4 linked regions of the Homo sapiens genome follow. The protein of the gene in region 2 purifies or fractionates together with the protein of the main gene of each other region. This does not show direct contact. Each region holds a gene or a part of one and is shown on either strand. Other genes may lie near its edges. The genes, in order: RBM6, ACER3, YLPM1 and CENPF.

Evidence for each region.
Region 1: the proteins of ACER3 (region 2) and RBM6 purify together in Homo sapiens (affinity purification with mass spectrometry; one large-scale study listed by BioGRID and IntAct). This does not show direct contact.
Region 3: the proteins of ACER3 (region 2) and YLPM1 purify together in Homo sapiens (affinity purification with mass spectrometry; one large-scale study listed by BioGRID and IntAct). This does not show direct contact.
Region 4: the proteins of ACER3 (region 2) and CENPF purify together in Homo sapiens (affinity purification with mass spectrometry; one large-scale study listed by BioGRID and IntAct). This does not show direct contact.

What each region holds. Positions count from the first base shown.
Region 1 is NC_000003.12:49,963,328-49,968,309, reverse strand, and holds part of RBM6 (RNA-binding protein 6), read right to left. Parts: intron 1,113-4,982; exon of another isoform or gene 841-1,112; coding exon 1-840. UniProt on the Homo sapiens protein: Specifically binds poly(G) RNA homopolymers in vitro.
Region 2 is NC_000011.10:76,918,884-76,923,865, reverse strand, and holds part of ACER3 (alkaline ceramidase 3), read right to left. Parts: intron 3,760-4,982; exon of another isoform or gene 3,611-3,759; intron 1-3,610. UniProt on the Homo sapiens protein: Endoplasmic reticulum and Golgi ceramidase that catalyzes the hydrolysis of unsaturated long-chain C18:1-, C20:1- and C20:4-ceramides, dihydroceramides and phytoceramides into sphingoid bases like sphingosine and free fatty acids at alkaline pH.
Region 3 is NC_000014.9:74,769,102-74,774,083, reverse strand, and holds part of YLPM1 (YLP motif-containing protein 1), read right to left. Parts: intron 2,393-4,982; exon of another isoform or gene 2,338-2,392; intron 1-2,337. UniProt on the Homo sapiens protein: Plays a role in the reduction of telomerase activity during differentiation of embryonic stem cells by binding to the core promoter of TERT and controlling its down-regulation.
Region 4 is NC_000001.11:214,643,931-214,648,912, reverse strand, and holds part of CENPF (centromere protein F), read right to left. Parts: intron 4,357-4,982; coding exon 1,513-4,356; intron 239-1,512; coding exon 86-238; intron 1-85. UniProt on the Homo sapiens protein: Required for kinetochore function and chromosome segregation in mitosis. Required for kinetochore localization of dynein, LIS1, NDE1 and NDEL1.

The sequences.
Region 1 (4,982 bases), on a different chromosome or scaffold from region 2:
TAATCCAAAATATTTGGATCCACAGGGGGCATCTCCCTATCTTTAAATTCCATACAAGATCCCATCTCTCTGCCCCTAAAATCCTGATCAGTCCTAGATCGGTGTCTACCTCTGAAATCTGAATGTGGCGTATCCCTGTCCCTAAAGTCTAGATCAGTAGTACCTGAACCTCGGCCTCTAAAGTCTACTTGTGTTCCGTCTTTGTCTCTAAAGTCCAAATCAGATACATCTCTATTCCTAAAATCAGAACGGGACTGTTCTCTGGCCCTAAAATCCAAATCTGATAAATCCCTTCCCCTAAAATCTGCATGGGATCCATCCCGGCCTCTAAAATCTAAATCATAAGTGCCCCGGCCCCTGAAGTCAGATGGAGGAGCATCCCTACCTCTGAAGTCAACAGCGTGAGCATCCCTGTCTCTGTAGTTCATATGAGGTGCCTCCCTACCTCTATAATCCATAGAAGTACCATCTCCACCCCTATAGTCCATAGGTGGTCCTTCTCTATCCCGAAAATCCCCAGAATGTATGTCCCTACCCCTGAAGTCCAACTGTGATGAATCTCTGCTCTGGAAATCAGAAGACGAAAAATCTCCCCCCCTGAAATCATGTCCAGGTCCCTCCCCTCCTCGATAGTCACCATGCGGTCCGTCTCTAGCTCCATAGCTGAAAGAATGCTCCTCTACATTTGCAAAAGGAGGCCCCGAATGCCCCTGGAAATCAAAGGGAAGTGAATCTCTGCCAGGAAAGTTGCCAGAGTGTCTCTCTTGAGCATGACTCTTAAGGGGAGGAGGAGGATAATCCCTGTTCCACCCGGGAGCAAACCTTTCTTCTTGGCTCCCACTGTAGAAACAAAGACAGTGTTATTCATATTGTCCAGAGAGTTTGAAATCTACACACCAGCATATTCTTCTCTAATCACAGCACATTCTTCTGTAAACATTTTTTTTTTGGCAGAGTTCTGTAACAAGGTCCTAGATCTGCAGAAAACAGCAAAGTTTTGCTATTTTAAGACGAAGTGGCGGAGTAAACTTTTATGCTCCCATTTCAGAACACGAGGAAAGTCAACACAAGGTTTTCAACATGACTGCTGCAGAAAAAGCTTTCACCCAGTCCTGCAACAGGGAAAATCCGCAATACCAAATAAGCTAACAATGGTGACATACTACAAAAATTTCCATTTCCTACAGCCAGGGAACTTAAGAATTCCAAGGTCAACATGACGATTCCTATATATCAGAAAAATCAATGCACTGTAAATTTCTTACAGTAAGTTTCAGGAGGTATCTTTCTCACGCTGCATCCAGCGGTAACATTCAAAAATATTTTATTACAGATACAGCATGGACACCACCCAATCAAAATGGATGCAGGCCCAAAAAGAAGAAACACTGGTTGTAAATCACCAGTAGGAACAAGCACACCAGTGTTCACCAGCTGAGCATCAGCCCTGGCTGCATCTAAATCCCAGTTCTACAGTGGCTCCACCAAGAAGCACTCTAACCTGGGTCCTATTATAACTACCCAAGGGTATCACAGAAGGTAGAAGGTAGTATGAATCATGCCACAAAGCATGTATAAGTCATCTAAGCCACGCAACAGCATCCAGGGGCTCAATGCTGAGATAGACCTAGAGAGAGCATTAGGTCTTCAAGCATGATCCCCATGACCCAAATGAAGAAGCTGATATTCCATATTCCAATGTCTCATGCTACTTTTTCATGGCAATAAAATACATTTTAAAAATAGACATAGTATTAAATTTACATTCTCAATTTATAGAACTCAAGAGATAAACAAGATGTGACCTAATCTTTCATACTACCCAACTTCTTCCCTTTGCCTAACCTTCAGGGCATTTTACATGTTTTGGCTTCAGTCCAAGATTCCCTAAACTAGTTTAAGTAGGCAATTAGGCACCTAGGATCCTAGGCAGGGAGACATGAAAAAGGAAAACATGAAAAGACCTGAAGGGTCATCTGTTATTCAGCAGTAAAACAAAAGCATTAAGATATTAATACCAACTCAATTCTTGCCTCCCAGAACATACAGGGTCTATCATAAGGCCCTTCTGAGCTCAGACTATGCTACTATACTAAAATTCAAAGGACAACTGATTCTGGGTCACTCAGTTCAAGAGAAATAGTTGCAATGCCAAACCTTTTCTTTCTCTTTTTCTTTTTTTTTGAGACGGAGTCTCGCTCTGTTGCCCAGGCTGGAGTGCAATGGCATGATCTCGGTTCACTGCAGCCTCTGCCTCCTGGGTTCAAGCAATTCTCATGCCTCAGCCTCCAGAGTAGCTGGGATTACAGGCATGCGCCACCATGCCCAGCTAATTTTTTTATTTTTAGCAGAGATGGGGTTTTACCATGCTGCCCAGGCTGGTCTTGAACTCTTGACCTCAGGTGAGCCACCCATCTCTGTCTCCCCAAGGTTAGGGTTACAGGCGTGAGCCACCATGCCCGGCCAACCCTTTCTTAAAGTAACAGGAATTTAACAGCATTAACCTAAACACTAGAATGATGTACATTTAATGGATTTTCAGAACATGATGACTTCCACTGACCCCCATTAACACTAGTTATGTCTATGTGGTTCATCATAAGAGGAGCAAGTTTAGATGTTCTTCTTTTTTTTTTTTTTGAGACGGAGTCTCGCTCTGTCGCCCAGGCTGGAGTGCAGTGGCGCGATATTGGCTCACTGCAAGCTCCGCCTCCCGGGTTCACGCCATTCTCCTGCCTCAGCTTCCCAAGGGGCTGGGACTACAGGCGCCCGCTACCACGCCCAGCTAATTTTTTTGTATTTTTTGTAGAGGCGGGGTTTCACCGTGTTAGCCAGGATGGTCTTGATCTCCTGACCTCGTGATCCACCCGCCTCGGCCTCCCAAAGTGCTGGGATTACAGGCGTGAGCCGCCACGCCCGCCCTAGATGTTCTTCTTAGGCAATACAATTTAACACTAAAATTAAGATGTTACCACTAAATACAGTGTCTCTCATGTTTAAAATCATTCAAGTCTTTCTTGCAGGAAGATTTAAGCTTCATCAGACACTCATGGGATGAGGACTGAGGTATGAAATCTACATGTTTTCTGACCAGAACACATCCAACATGGCCTAAAGATTATCTTACTCTTCTAAATTAAGATCAAATAGATTTAGAGTAACTTACTGTAGCAGGGTTCTTAGATTTGTATTTTATACAGACGAATCAAGAAACCATTCTACTAATATAAAATATCAGTAGTTATGAAAATTATTTTCAACCAAATAAAAACAAATTTTAAAAGAAAAGTTCAAAGGAAATGTAACAAAATCATTTTCCTATATCTGTTTTGGTTCAAATTAGTTCCCAAAAACTGTCTCCCTCCTAGTCAAAGATGTTAAAAAACAGCATATAATGACTTACATTTAAACTAAAATTAAGGTGGGAAAATATAATTTTAAATAAGTTTAAACGAGTCAAAGACAAATGTTCTAAATTTGAAAAAAGTTAGACAATAAAGCTAAATTAACCTAACATTTCTGAATGCTTACCTAAACCACGTTAATTCTATACGAAACAGCCTTACTTACAAAATAGTTACCCATAAATACAAGTAATAAGAGGATAGATTACAACCTAAATATTTTTAAATGGTAACGTACAACCCCATTGATCTAGATGAGAGGTCAGGAAACTTTTTCCATGAAGAGCCAGTTCGTAAACATATCGGATTTTGTGGGTTATACAATCTCTGTTACAACTATTCAACTCTGCCATCATAGCATGAAAGCAGCCATACACAATCTGCAAATGAGTAAGAGTGGCTGTTTTCCAGTAAAACTTTATTTACAAAAACAGGCTATCAGCTGTAGTTTGCTGACCACTGATCTAATCCTTAGTATTTTGAAAGAAAAAAAATACCCAACATCACACTGTTGTTTTAATTTAAAGACCAATCTCTGTCATTCAGCATTTATGAAATACTAGTTTTACTAAACATTATATGGATTTTCTAAACTCAGTTCTCCACCTAAATTTTTCATTGGAACTCCAAGCTTCAGAACAATGAATGAGAACATCTGTTGCATTTAAGTAATAAAATCTTGCAGATTGCCAATCCAAATGGCAGGTGCGGTGGCTCACACTTATAGTCCCAGCACTTTGGGAGGCTGAGGTAGGTGGATCACTTGAGGTCAGGAGTTTGAGATCAGCCTGGCCAACATGGTGAAACGCCATCTCTACTAAAAAAAAAAATACAATAATTAGCCAGGCATGGTGGCATACACCTGTAGTCCCAGCTACTCAGGAGGCTAAGGGAGGAGAATCACTTGAACCTAGGAGGCAAAGGCTGCAGTGAGCTGAGATCATACCCCTGCACTCCAGCATGGGCAACAGAGTGAGACTCCATTTTGAAAAAAGGTAAAAAAAGGAAAATGTACTAGTTAATAGAAGTTTCAACTGGAGCAACAATACTTATGAATGCATACATTTAAAGGTCAGATTTATTTGCTATGTACCAAGTAAAACCAAAAAAGTCACATTCATATAGCATCTCATTAATTGTAAACACAATACGAAAAATGTTTAAATACTAGTTAAAATACAGTGTGTATGATACTAGCTATAAAAAAATTAATTCCCTACAAATTTAAAATACAATCTATTTACAACTAAATGCTACCACTTTCTCCACTCTTCTTGGTACCAAGTAACCCCTAAAATTGAGAGGTGGCTTAGCAAACTGCGTCAACATGCCACAGACAAGGCACAGCTCTGAATTCTAGACATAAATTAGTGAACTCAATACAACTTTTATAAACATTTATGTAAATTTTGCTAGCTTTCCTTACTAGCCAAATATGTATTCCTTCGCTAAGAGACAAAAAGAAATAAAATATTTGGGTATTTTTTAATATTAAAATAATGAAATTAGCCAGGCATAGTGGCACGCGCCTGTAATCCCAGCTACTCAGAAGGCTGAGGCAGGAGAATCACTTGAACA
Region 2 (4,982 bases):
AGGGAACAGTACCAGGTGTTCACACATAGCCAGTACACACATAGCCAGAAACAGTGCCTACTCCCAAAAGCTGAAATGGTAAAATTTGTATCACACTGGGCATTGGATAAAGGAATCAAGAAGGCCTGGCCTCAGTAATAGGGAATAGCTAGTACTAGACTGAACCCTGTTCCAGACACACCTAACAAATCACAAAAGCAAAATCCAAAAGGATCAAACTGTTTCCAAGTAGCTTCACTGAAATCCAGAACAAAATTCAAGACTATTTATACTAATACAAAAGTTATTCAGCACCTAACAAAGTTAAAAAAAGCACGATGTCAGGTATTCAATCAAAGATTACCAGGCATACAAAAAAAGCAAGAAACATGATCCATGAGGAAAATAATCAACTGGAACCAACCCAGAACAGATGTTAGAATTAGCAGACAAGGACTAAAACAGATCATATAAAAGGCTAGAAAATGCAAACTAATCTACAGTGACAGAAAGAAGATCAGTGGTTGCTGGGGGAGAAATGGTGGAAGTTCAATGCAGAAGGAGGGCTTACAAAGGAATAAAATAAAACTTGGAGGTGAAGGATATGTTACTATCTTGTTTTTGATGGTTTCACAGGTATAAGCCAATGTCAAATTTTAATTTGTACACTTTAAATAGGTGCAGTCTGTTTTGTATCTCAATTATACCTCAATCAAGCTGGGTTTGTTTTTTTTTTTAATTTTGCTTCTGGGGAGTAGAATTAGACAGTGGGAAGCAAAGAAGGGTTGGGAAAGAACATTGCCTTCTGGTTTTGTTAAAGTTGTTTAGCATTATCTAGATTTTTAAATTTTTTTTATATATTGCTTTGATAAAATAAAAATTAATACAGAAACCATTTAGGAGAGGGAGTAAGATCGTTGGGAATAGTTTCATAGATGTATTAAGATTTGAGCTAGACCCTGAAAGGAGAGAAAGGAACAAAAATATGCTGAGCCTATTAAGTACCAGGTACTGAACTTTATATTTTACATGTGCTATCTTACTTGCTTCTCACAACCAATCTTGTGAAGTATTGTTGTCCCTATTAAAAATAAACAGTAAAAGCGGGTTAAGAAATTATACAATTTACAGTATACAATTCCAAGTTCTCACAATAAGCAAATGGTGGTGGCAAGATTTTATTCCAGGTCTATCTGTCCTTATAGCTAATGTTCCTCTCACTAGATGTGCTAGCACAATGTTCACACAGAGGGTGCTTATTAATTATAATGTTTTAAAAATTATATCAGAGTATTTTATTCAGAATATATTAAATGACTTCCAAACTGTACAAAGAATAAAGTAATTTGCCTAGGTAGAGTATGAAAATGTAAGGTGGGGAGCCAGACAGATTGAGAGTTATATATCCAAACAGCAGTTATCAATAGTTTTAAGTAAACCTGTAGGAGATGTTGAATATTTTACCATTCAGGAGTGCCCTAAGATTCAAACTAATGAAAATCTTTACTGATGACTAAGATAAAGCAATGGAAACATGCCCAAACGTACAGGTAGTATTAAATTTAGCTGAAATGTCAATAGTATGGAAGTCAGTAATACATTTCAAATTACCTGGAGGCAGGGAGTGCAGGAGGGTCTTACAAACTATATGAAACTCATTTAAGGACAATGCACAAGTTTTACAAATTAGAATGAAGAATTGCAAACCACAAATATAGGCTTGTTAGAGAGAGTAAGGACAACCCTGACAGAAAGTTCCAAAGACAGAAAGATGACAGTAGGCTATTCTGGGAGGAAAATCTCAATATACTAGTATTCAGAGGTAAAAATGGAAAGAGCTAGATAGTGGTCCTCCTACTTTTCTCTGCTTTAATTCAGCTTCTCATTGGGATGTTTATCTATTTGTGGCACCCTAAACAAAACAGAAATACTAAAGCATTCAGAGTAGAGACTCATATAAAGGCATAATATACTAAATAAATAAAACACAACATATAAGGAATGGAATGACTGCTATCTTCAAATATCTGAAGGATTCCTGGGTCAGATTGACAATCTGAACACGTAACTGCAGTTTTGGTGTTACAGATATAATTTGCAATAGCATCAAAACACATCACATATCTAGGAATAAATCTGACAAAGACATATAAGACATAATACTAATAAAAATCCCAAATGGTTTTGGGTACAAATTAAAAAGCTGACTCTTAACTTTATATGAAATACAAAAGGCTAAGAAGAGCCAAGACAATCTTGAGTAACAACAAACCTGGAGTATTTACACTACTAGATATCAAGGCCGACTAACAAGGTTAAATAGAACAGGTAAGATTATAAGAACATACTAACATTTACGAGCACCTGATTTATGACAAACATAAGCCTGCAGTGTATTAAGGAAAGGATGGTCTTTTCAATACAGATACTGGATCAACTGCATATTTATATAGGAAAAAAATTAATCTGGATCCCAGGTTCACACTCCTTACACAAAAATAAATTCCAGATGGGAGCTTCTCTGAACCCATTCTGGTTCAAGGGCTGCCCAATTCGATAAACAATTAAAAATTTGTTTTAATTAAAAATAAATTCCAGAGGTACTATAGATCTAAATGTAAAAGGTAACACAATAAAACCTTCAGAAGAAAATATGGGAGAACATCTTTATCACCTTGGAGAGGCAATGATTTTTTTCAGTAGGACATGAAAAGGATTAACCACAAAGGCAAAAAATTGATAAATCAGGTAAGACTGTAAAGTCAGGAAAAAAGAATAAAAGGTTACTTTTAAAAAGCTGATTTAAAGAATAATAGATATGTAATTGCTTTGTAAATAAGCAATTTAGCTTATATAGCTATACATGTTAGCTAATTTAATTTTACTAAGCAAAATAATGCACATAAAATGATCGTGGACTTAAAACTTTGGGTAAAAAAATGGTTTCAGCCCAGGCATTGTGGATCATGGCTATAATCCCAGCACTTTGGAAAGCCAAGGGGGGAGGATTGCTTGAGCCCAGGAGTTCGACACCAGCCTGGGCAACATAAGGAGAACCCATCTCTACAAAAAATTTTTTAAAATTAGCCAGGCATAGTGGCACTTGCCCGTGGTCTTAGCTGCTCAGAAGGCTGAGGTGGGAGGATCGCTTGAGCCTGGGAGGCTGAGGCTGCAGTGAGCCATGATCACACCACTGCACTGCAGCCTGGGTGACAGAGCAAGACTCTGTCTGTTAAAAAAAAAAAAAAAAAAGTCAAGAGTTCAATCAGAAAAGATAAACCAGAGTAATTTGAATAGAGAATTATTAACTTATAAGAGTAAGGAGAGACAGGCTAGTCACAAGTAAAGAAAACTCTACAGAATAAAGGAATATCAGAGGTAAGGAGCAGCCACTACCCCTAAGGCTGAGATAGAGCATTAAAAAAGAGGTTTCCCCAAGGCTGAGATGCAGACCTTGCTGGAGAAGGCATGACCATGGTTCACTGAATAGCCGAGAAGTTGCTGTGGTGCTATACCCATAGAGCTTGCTGAAATCTACTGTTCAGAACTTGTCAGAACTCTGCCCTCTAGGGTGCCAGCTAAAGCTAATCCCATAGAGCGGAGAGGTAGGTGGGCAGGGGATGCTACTGACCACTAGGTGCTGCTGACAGCCACGTTCTGCAATAGCCTGGCACCAGAAGCTGACCAAGCTTTAAGAGGTGGGCACTGGGGAAGCCTCAGCACTGTAGGAGCCAGAAGCTATTAAGCCACTTGGACTGCAAGAGCTGGCGCCAGAGAAGTTGCCAAGCCAGCACACCAGAACCAGGAAGGAAAATCTCTTCCTCTTGCAATGTCTCTCTGGCGCCCTCTATTGACAAAATTTAACATCCAGCCAGTTGTCAAAGGAAAATATTCAAAGGGCTCAGGTCTATTTTCACCAACCATGCAATGAATGTTGAACTCAGAGCTAAGAAGTAATAAATTGATAACGACCACAATTATAAAACTATGTTTTCATCAATCATGACTTGGTAAAACTATAGTTGGTGAGGGTTCCCTAACCAAGAAATTAAGAATAAACATTTAAGCAGGTTAAATAATGGATTTCCCCCTTTTTCCATATTTTCTACAATGTTGCTATATTGTCTTTATAACTGAAAACTAAAGTATTAAAAAGATGAATGGTAGAAAATAAAATTACTTCTACTAAGAGTTTAATTGGATTTGAGGTTAACTGCTTCCAGAAAATTCAATTAAAAAATTTCTGTTCTGGAAATAAAAGCGAGATATTCATTCATACACCACACAATAGTGTACTAAAATATTTTGAACACTTTTTTTCTGGAAGGAAAGTCTTATTTTGATATAGATTTAGATTTTTGAAAACTATGATATTTTTATACCCCCAAACACATTCTCCTTATAATATAAATTACAGGCAAGACTGACGTTACAGTAATTTCACGATTTCTTAATAGGTAAATTTATCTTTCAGCAAGGTAAACGGAAACTCAAATATCAAAAATATGAGAAACAAAGTTTGGGGAAAAGCACATGTGCAAAAGGGTACAATTTAAGAGAATTGTGAATGAAGATACAGTAGGAAAGTGTTTTCTCATAGGACAGTAGGTGGAGCCAGTGTGCTCCACAATCTAAACGGTTTTCCAACATTTGGCTGAATACATAAAACCCTGAGGTGACTGGATAAACAATTTAGAGCTCGGTTGTATTTACAACTGTAAAACCATCACCCAGAGCTAAAGATAAATAAATAGAAGCATTAAAATCTAGTGAAGCTGAAAAAGTGATCTATATTGCTTCACTTCCACTGTGAAAAGCCGTCCTGCCCAGTCAGCAAATTAGCTTGATGAAAGCTGTAACTGGTTTGAGCCTGAAAGCAACCCAGCACTTTTCCCCAATGCAAGTTCATTTTGCCAAATATTTTACTGATTATGCAGATCTTCAAATAATGTTAAACATTCCCAGAGCTTCAGAGACTTCAGAGATGGATGTAGATAGGGAGA
Region 3 (4,982 bases), on a different chromosome or scaffold from region 2:
ACCCCACTGTAAGTCAAAGAGTATCTGTACTTTTACTATTCAACGTAAGAAAACAGCACACTTGGCCAGGCACAGTGGCTCATGCCTGTAATCCCAGTACTTTGGGAGGTCTAGGCGGGCAGGTCACCTGAGGTCAGGAGTTCGAGACCAGCCTGGCCAACACGGTGAAACCTCGCCTCTACTAAAAATACAAAAATTAGTAGGGTGTGGTGGCACACACCTATAATCTCAGCTACTCCGGAGGGTGAGGCAGGAGAATCCCCTGAACCTGGGAGGCGGAGGTTGCAGTGAGCCGAGATCGTGCCATTGCACTCCAGCCTGGGCAACAGAGAAAGACTCTGTCTCAAAAAAAAAAAAAAAAAAAAAAAAAAAGAAAGAAAACAGCACACTGACCATGAAAGCCAAAGCCAATAATAATAATAATGTAGCATTAAAACACTTCCTTCCATTATTTTAATACTGAAAACATCAACAGACTTATCCTTCAGTTTTAAAAAAATTAGTACATTCTCTTTCAAGTAGAAGTTAAAAGTTTCCTTTTTTAAAGTTGCTTTGAAAGCATTATTAAAAGATACAAAGATGCAAACTATCTTTCACAAACTAAGCCAATGCTACAGATATGAAGACTGTACAGAATGAAAACTGTACAGGTCCAGATTCTTTATCAGCTTCTTCATCACCTATTCTCATGCTTTGTCTTAGATCCAGACCAGGGTTAAGAACTTGTTAAGGGCTGAAGTACTTGTTGATTCACTGACAGTATGCCTTGTAGGTCAATTTCTCTTTTTTTTTTCTTGAGATGGAGTCTCGCTCTGTCGCCCAGGCTGGAGCGCAGTGGCGCGATCTCGGCTCACTGCAAGCTCCGCCTCCCGAGTTCACGCCATTCTCCTGCCTCAGCCTCCTGAGTAGTTGGGACTACAGGCGCCCGCCACCACGCCCGGCTAATTTTTTATATTTTTTAGTAGAGACGGGGTTTCACCATGTTAGCCAGGATGGTCTCGATCTCCTGACCTTGTGATCCGCCCACCTCAGCCTCCCAAAGTGCTGGGATTACAGGCGTGAGCCACCGTGCCCGGCCGCCTTGTAGGTCAATTTCTATTTAATATGAACCCTATAAGTAGTAACCAGATCTAATTCAATCCTATGGTAGGCTTCAGCACATTTTTGAAGCTCTGCAAATAAATAATAATGATATCACTCACAAATGTCCTTACTGACCCTAAGAGAAGTGTGATCATCCCTATTTTAGAAAGAAAAAAAATGCCTGAACTTGCTAATGATGCCAGCTCTTCTGAATGTCCCATCATATCAGATAACTCCATTTCATATGGGATGTTGTTTTATAGGTAGAGGGAAATCATAATATAGGTCACATTTAAAACGAGATTGAATGAAGGGATTTCAAACATAAAGAATGTAGAACTATTGGCTGGGTGCGGTGGCTCACATCTGTAATCCCAGCACTTTGGGAGGCCAAGGCGGGCGGATCACAAGGTGAGGAGTTCGAGACCAGCCTGACCAACATGGTGAAACCCTGTCTCTACTAAAAATACAAAACTTAGCTGGGTGTGGTGGCACATGCCTGTAATCCCAGCTACTCGGGAGGCTGAGGCAGGAGAATCGCTTGAACCTGGGAGGCGGAGGTTGCAGTGAGCCCAGATCCTCGCGCCACTGCACTTCAGCCTGGGTGAGAGCGAGACTCCATCTCAAAAAAAAAAAAAAAATTAAGAATATAGAACTATTTGTCACAAATACTGTTATTAAGAAAGATGCTGCCGAGGCACGAATATCGCTTGAGCCCAGGAATTCAGACCAGCCTGGGCAACATGGCAAGATCCCATCTCTCTGAGAAAAAAAAAAAAAAAAGAAAGATGTTGATTTTAATTTACTCAGGAAGCACTTACTGACCACTGCTGCTAGTAATGAACTAGATACTAAATGATTTTCCAAGTGGAGAACTATAAAGGAGGTGAGTGTTTGTGTGTAATGTTTTAAAGATTAATTTTAGAAGATTACCTTCCCTATCCAGGTTATCATAAATGCCTATAAGACAATGTTCTATGTCTTATATTCTAAAGCAGGGGGCAGGGAGGACACCTGGTAAAATAATGAATTGGGTTTCCATTTTAGAAATTTATTTAAAATAGGCTTAAATATTTTTGAGATTCACATTCTACTGTAAGAATCAGGGTCACCAGATAAGCTTAGTCCCCACCTATTTTTATTTTAAATGCTCATTTACTTCATCTATTCCTCCAGCTCCTTCCCTCATTCTCTCTCTCCTTCAGTCAAACTTCTTGAAAGAGTTGTCTGTACTCACCATCCCCATTTCCTCACCTTCCATCACTCCTCAAATCAATGCAATATGGCTTCAGTCACTATGAAACTGCTCCTGCCAAGGTCAACAATAATCTACATGTCAGTAGGTGCAAAAGATAACTCGCAGTCTTTATCTTGCTTGACGTCTCAGCAGTACTTCACACAGCTGACGACTCCCTCCTCCTAGAGTCTGTTCCTTGACGTTCATGGCAACGCACTATCCACTATCTTGATTTTCCACCTATCACACTGGTGCCAAAGTAACTGTGGTTTTGCCATTAAAAGTAATAGCAAAAACTGCAATTACTTTTGCACCAACCTAATATGAATACCTATTTGGCCATTCTTTCATTGGTTCCCTTAGATACTGCTATTTGTGGAGCTAGGCTTAATGTCCTTTAACCTCAGTTCTTACTCTACACACATTCCTTGAGAGGCTTCATCTATTTCTGTGTCTTCAAATACCATTTTTATGCTGATGACTTATAAATCTATGTCTCCCAGATCTTACATCTAGACTCCAGAGCTATATCTAACTTCCAAGTGGACATCTCCATTTGGAATCTATGTCTCAAGAACCCCAAACTCAGTATGTCTGAAACCTAACTCATGATTTTCTCCTCACCCCCAGAAATGTTCTTCCTCCTCCTCCTTTAGGTTTTTCTGTTTTAGTAAATTTGACCACCATCCACCCTACGGCCCAGCCCAGAAACCTAAGAATCATTCTTGATGCCTCCCTCTCCATAACTACTCAACCTCAAAGTGAATTCTAGCAGCTAAATATTTCTCCACTCTTCCCACTTCTCTCCATCTCAACTAATACCATCAAAGTCTAAACCACTATTATCTCTTGCCTGGATTACTTCAATAACTATTCTCTCTAAATCACTCTTGCTCCTTTTAATTCTGCTCTCCACACTGCAAGCAGAGTGAGCTTTCAAAAATGCCAATCTGTCACATTCACCTATGTAAAATCCTTCAATGGCTTCCAACTGCCCTTAGAATGAAGTCCTTACAGGCCTTCCCTGATCTAGTTCATACCTACCATCCTCACCCTGAGCTTTCAGTGAGCCTTATTGAACTTAATTCTTTGAATTCTAACTTCTGGTTAATTTCTACTCTTTTTCTTTTTTTTTAACTGAGATGGAGTCCCACTCTGTCGCCCAGGCTAGAGAGCAGTGGGGCAATCTTGGCTCACTGCAACCTCTGCCTCCTGGGTTCAAGTGATCCTCCCACCTCAGCCTCCCAAGTAGCTGAGATTAAAAGCGTGCACCACCACACCCAGCTAATTTTTTGTATTTGTAGTAGAGACAGAATTTCACCATGTTGGCCAGGCTGGTCTTGAACTCCTGACTTCAAGTGATCCGCCTGCCTTGGCCTCCCAAAGTGCTGAGATTACAGGCATCAGCCACTGCACCTGGCCTACTCATTTTTTTTTTTTTTAGGTCTCACTCTGTTGCCCAGGCTAGAGTGCAGTGGCACGAGAACTCCTGGGCTTAAACAATCCTCCCACCTCAGCCACCCGCAAGTAGCCGGCACTACAGGCATGCAACACCATGCCTGGCTAGGTTTTTTTTTTTTTTGAGTCGGAGTCTCACTCTGTCGCCCAGGCTGGAGTGCAGTGGCGCGATCTCGGCTCACTGCAAGCTCCGCCTCCCGGGTTCACACCATTCTCCTGCCTCAGCTTCCTGAGAAGTTGGGACTACAGGCGCCCACCACCACGCCCGGCTAATTTTTTGTATTTTTAGTAGAGATGGGGTTTCACCATGTTAGCCAGGATGGTCTTGATCTTCTGACCTCGTGATCTGCCCGCCTAGGCCTCCCAAAGTGCTGGGATTACAGGCGTGAGCCACTGCGCCCGGCCACCTGGCTAGTTTTTTAAACTTTTTGTGGGCGGGGGGCGGGGGGGGGGGTGTCTCACTTTGTTGCCCAGGCTGGCCTTGAACTCCCGGCCTCTAATGAGCCCAAAGAACTGGGATTACAGGTGTGAGCACCCAGTCCTCCTACTTATTCTTTAGAGTTCATTTAAATATCACTTTACAGGCCCGGCGTGGCAGCTTACGCCTGTAATCCCAGCACTTTGGGAGGCCGTAGCAGGTGGATCACGAGGTCAGGAGTTCAAGACCAGCCTGGCCAAGATGGTGAAACCTCTTCTGTACTAAAAATACAAAAAAAAATGGCCGGGCACTCTGACTCACACCTGTAACCCCAGCACTTTGGGAGGCTGAGACAGGCAGATCACCTGGGGTCAGGAGTTCGAGACCAGCCTAGCCAACATGGTGAAACCTCGTCTCTACTAAAAATACAAAAATTAGCCAAGCGTGGTGGCAGGCGCCTGTAATCCCAGCTACTCCTGGGAGTAGCTGAGGCAGGCTGAGGCAGGAGAATTGTTTGAACCCGGGAGGCAGAGGTTGCAGTGAGCCGAGATCGTGCCATTGCACCCCAGCCTGGGCAACAAGAGTGAGACTTCGTCTCCAAAAAAAAAAAAAAAAAAAAAAAAAAAAAGATAAAAATACAAAAAAATTAGCCGGGCGTGGTGGCAGGCACCTGTAATCCCAGTTACTAGGGAGGCTGAGGCAGAAAATTGCTTAAACCCGGAAGGCGGAGGTTGCAGTGAGCCGAGATCGCGCCACTGCACTCCAGCCTGGGCAACAGAGCGAGAC
Region 4 (4,982 bases), on a different chromosome or scaffold from region 2:
AACAGAAGGTCTTACAGGAACCAATAAGGAGAGTGTGCACAATGAATTAACAGATCATAATAACACTTGTCACAAAGAAACTTACTTTGCTGCTCTTTATTTCTTCCAACAGTAACTGCAACTCTCCAGCTAGCCTATTTTTCTCTCCACTGAGTTCTTCTTGCAGCTCTGCTGTTTTCTGTGCCATCTCATGCATTTCCCTCTGCAGCTCAGTTTCCTTTGCAGTCATTTTGTTTACCTGAAATTTCATCTTTCATTAGAATCTGCTTTTTGGTGGTCTGTTTTGATCAGATCGACCACTCTGATACAACATATTCATGCCATTTATTTTAGCCTTCAATCATAAAATGGAAGCTGGCTAATCCCGCCTTTACTAATCCACTCAACTCAACATTCTCAAAACCTACTAGTAAGCTTACCTTTTCTTCCCAGAAAAGATTTAATAGAAGAATAGTAATAAGGGAAGGAATGACAAGGAAAGATAATATCCCTAAGTCTTAAAATCTTTCACAAAGGTATTAATTTGAATTAAACTTAAACATCAAAGATTATCATTATCAGGCAGTATCTTATCACTTCTTGGATCTCTACTAATCCCCCAGTGCCATACTAATCTGCAATAAACATGCTTATGATTACTGAAAAACAGTTAAAAAGCTATTGTTTGCATTTGTCCCTTGAAGTGAAACAGCTTGCTATGGTTTGTCTCATCATCTCTATACTGACTGCCATCTCTTGCAAGGTATCCAAAACCCCAAAATTCTTAGAAAATACAGGGTGGAGATGAATTTTGTGGATAGTCCTTTTATTCTTTAATATTTGTTCAGCAAGAATTAAGTGTGACAAAATCACTTTCCTAGATCACTAAGTAAGCTCACTGGGCCAAAACTTAATTTTTCTTTAATAATTGAGCCTCTTGATGGCAGATCTTCCCTTTAATCATCAACTAATACAATAGAAGACTGCACAAAGAGAAGGTATAAGAGGGACTGAAAGCACGAAATCCCCAAAACACACCCTAGAAGCCATGAGTGCTCTGTTGGTTACAAATCTATCAGTATCTTTAAAAGTGCTTTGTCCTGAAGGCAAAAAAGACACAGTAAGGCAGGCAGATCCTTTCCGATCCTAGATAATGTCTGTTATACTCTCTATAGCAGTGAGTCTCAACTGGATATGGGGAGGCCACTATTCTGATGTACTCTAAGAAAAGGAAATATAACTAGAACAAGGAACTGTGCATAAACCAAAGCTTTGCCCTTATGTAGGTGCCACATTAAAAACCTGGTCCAATCCATGAACATGTCCCAAAGAATCAGCCAGAATAGTGACTACTGCCAGAGCCAACTCAGTGTTTCTGCAATTCAAGACCCAGTAAACATAAAGCCTTTACAAAGTTTGGTCCAATATAGCAGACACGGTCTAGAAGTAAATACAATTCACAGTGTCTAGAAGAAAATATGGTTTCCTGCCTCATGACTACATATTTAAACATAAACAGATATAGCCACTTACTTTTTCAACAAAGGACATTTTGTCCATTTTTGTCAATTCAAGCTCATTCTCTAGATTCTTGTAAGAACTCTGCAGCACTTCTAATGTGTCCTGCAAAGAGGCATTTTTGGATTGTAGCACTTGGATCTTCTGCTCCAATTCCACTGTCAGATTTCTCAGTTCTAAGTTTTGCTCCTTCCAAAGTTGGTGCTCTCCTTCCACCTGGGACAGTTTAGAGACAAGCTGCTCTTGGTCTTGAATTTGATTTTTCAGTCTACTGATTTCTTCATCCTTCTTCTCCAGTTTCTGCTTGCCATCTTCTACTTCTTGAATGAGGCCATTCACTGAAGATTGCAAAACAATATAATTATTTTTGGCCTCATCAAGGCCTTGTAGCAACTGAGCCTTCTCAAGTTCAAGACACTCTACTTGACTACTAAGATTCTGCTCTTTGGCCTTACAGGCTTCTTGGTCATTATGCAGGGCTGCCACTCTCTCATTGAGCTCTTTTAATTGTGTTTGAAGCATCTCCATGGCAGTGCTTGATTTTTCTTTCATCTGTACTTTCTCTTGCTCTTTTTCTTGCAAAATATTTTCAAATGATGAATTTATTATTTCTAATTCAGATATTCGCTCTTGCTCTTTTTGTAATTCATTTGTCAGATTTTCTTTTTCTGACCTTATAGTAACAACATCTAATTCCAGACCTCTCAGACTTTGGGTCATCCCTTCTATTTTTGCTTTTAGGGTCTCTACCTCTCCTTTGGAATTCTCTGCCTCAAGAGCTGCATGCTCTTGGTTTGTCCTGGCTATCTCTAGCTCTCTTTCAAGGTTCTCCACTCTACCCTTAAGTAAATCTGCATGATGCTCACTTTCCTTCAGTTGTTGTAAGACACAGAGCTGCTTCTTTTCATCAGCTTCTAGGCGGGCTCTCAGCTTTTCAATGCTATTTCTCAGCTGATGCTCTTCCTCTATTGGTGGGTCTAGACTCTGTTCTGTGGCCTTCATAATTTCTTGGTCACCACACAAGGCTGCTACTGCCTCATTTAGCTCCTTTAACTGATTCTGAAGCATCTCCACTGCAGTTTTAGATTCTTCTTTGATCTGTATCTCTGCTTGCTCCTTTTCTTCTAACAGACTTTTAAATGAAGAGAGTAACTTGTCTAGTTCTGACAACTGACCTTGTTTTTCTTGTATTTGTTTTGTCAGATTTTCTTTTTCAGACCTTAACGTGACAAGGTCTAATTCAAAAACTTTCAGGCTTCTGGCCATCTCTTCTATTTGTGTTTTTAGAGTCTCTACTTCTGCTTTGGAATTCTCGGCATCAAGAATCACTAGCTCCTGGTTTTCTTCTGACATCTGCAATTCCCTTTCAAGGTTCTCAACTTTATCCTTAAGTGAATCATTCTCCCGCTCGCGTTCTTTCAGTTTCTCTGCGATGTGCAGCTGCTTCTTTTCATCGGCCTCAATGCGAACTCTCAGTTTCTCGATGCCTCTTCTCAGCTGATGCACTTCCTCCTGTGTTGAGCTCAGCCTCAATGCGAACTCACCTTTCTCCACCAGTGCGGCCTCCAAGGCCTTGGAGACATTCAGCTTTTCATAATCTGATTCACTCAGTCTGGCCTGCAGGCTTTCAGATTCCTTGACAAGCAATTCTTTCTCTTTATTCAGTTGTGCAATTTGGTTTTCCAGCTCACATTTTGTCAAAGACAGTGCCTGTGAGTCCTTTTCCAAACTCTGCAGCTTTTCCTGGAGATGAGTTTTGTCTTTTAACAGCTCACTCACATCAGAGGACAAAGTCTGAAGGAGTTCCGTCTTTTCCTTCACCTCTGCCTCTGCCACCTGAATGCAATGGAGACACTCACTTTGATGAGACTCAAGCTCTTGTGTTTTCTCCTTCATTTTTTCAGACAACTGATCCAGTGCCGTGGTTTTTTTTGACATAGTATCTAATTCTCCACGAAGCTGGTTTCTCTCACTTGTGACCACTGAGAGTTCTTCTTCAAGGCAGACAATAACCTTCTGCTTATTTTCATTGTCTTTTTCTAAACATAGCTTCTCTGTTTGAACTACCTCTAAGTCAGCCTCCAGGTAGAGGGCTTCATGCTCAATGCTAGCTTTCTCCGATCTGATCCTACTCAGCTCATTTTCCACATCAAGAAATCTCTCCTTCCAGCTGTCATTCACCTTGGCCACATTATCTCCAATATCTTCACGTGATGATTTATCTGCATGCATTTCTAAATCAGAATTGAGGCCTTCAGAAGTTTCTACTCTCTGGAGTAACTCCTGGTGATCACAAGAAAAATATTCCAATTTTTCACTTAAATCTGAGTTTTCTTTCTTAAGTTCCCCAACTATTTTTTCCAATTCTATGCATGCTTCAATTTTGGTCATTAGTTGTACCTCCTGTAAATGGAGTTTTGAGTCTAATTCTTTCATTTCATTTAGCAAACTTTCAACTTTTCTGTCACGGTCCTCTATCACATGAAGTAATCTCAAATTCTCATTTGATGTCTCTTTTACCCGCAGTTGAAGATTATGGATATCTTCCTGATTCCCCAGGAAATCCATAGGTACCAAAGCATTAGGACCAGAAAATGACAATTCAGAAATGCATTCTGAAGAGCCCTGGGTTTTATCTTCCCCTGGAGGCTCATAATTGGTATCTGGGGACTGTTCCCCAGAGCACTCTCCTGTGGGTTTCACTGCACCAGTCTCAGTTATTTTCTCAATGTCTAGATTGAGGTCCTGCTGAGCATCTTTATCACAAATCTGATGAACATCATGCTTTGGTGTTCTTTCTGTAGTTTCTGAAGTATGTTCTTTTGATATGTCACAGCTCTCATTTCGGCCTTGAATAGCCTGTAATTATAATACATAACAAGCATGCATTTTATTTTTCAAAAAGAATCAAAATAGAATAGATTTAGTTATTACTTTTTAGAAACTGATGCGTGGCCTCTGCTAAACACATCTCTTAAAGTGGTGAATTTCCCACTACATCTTTCTCTCTTCATTCAAATGTTCAACATACTTATACGTTCAGTAAGTGGCCCCTATGGGCAAGACACTGGGGTTAGGCATTTATCTTGAAGACAAACCCTTCGGCTCAATTACAATTTGTAATGTATTTAAATTTCATATTTTTCCCTTGCTAAGAATATTCAGGTAGCCTAAATATGAAATCTCTTTGTAATTATTAAATAAGAGGCTAACAAAATGCTCAGCTTCCACCTTCAGCATTTATGATACTCTTTAATAAGGCAGTAAAGTTTCATAACCAGATTCCCAGTCCAAGGACTTAATCCCCAATCCAGCACTTACTGTACATTATTGGATAAATTACATATTTGAGCCTCACTTTCCTCTCATCTGTAAACTGGGGATCTGCTGTTGCACCTACACCTGCCATCACCTCACCATGACCTGCCTTCTCTACCTCACAGAGATAGACAGAGGAAATCAAGTGACATGCATACACTATATAG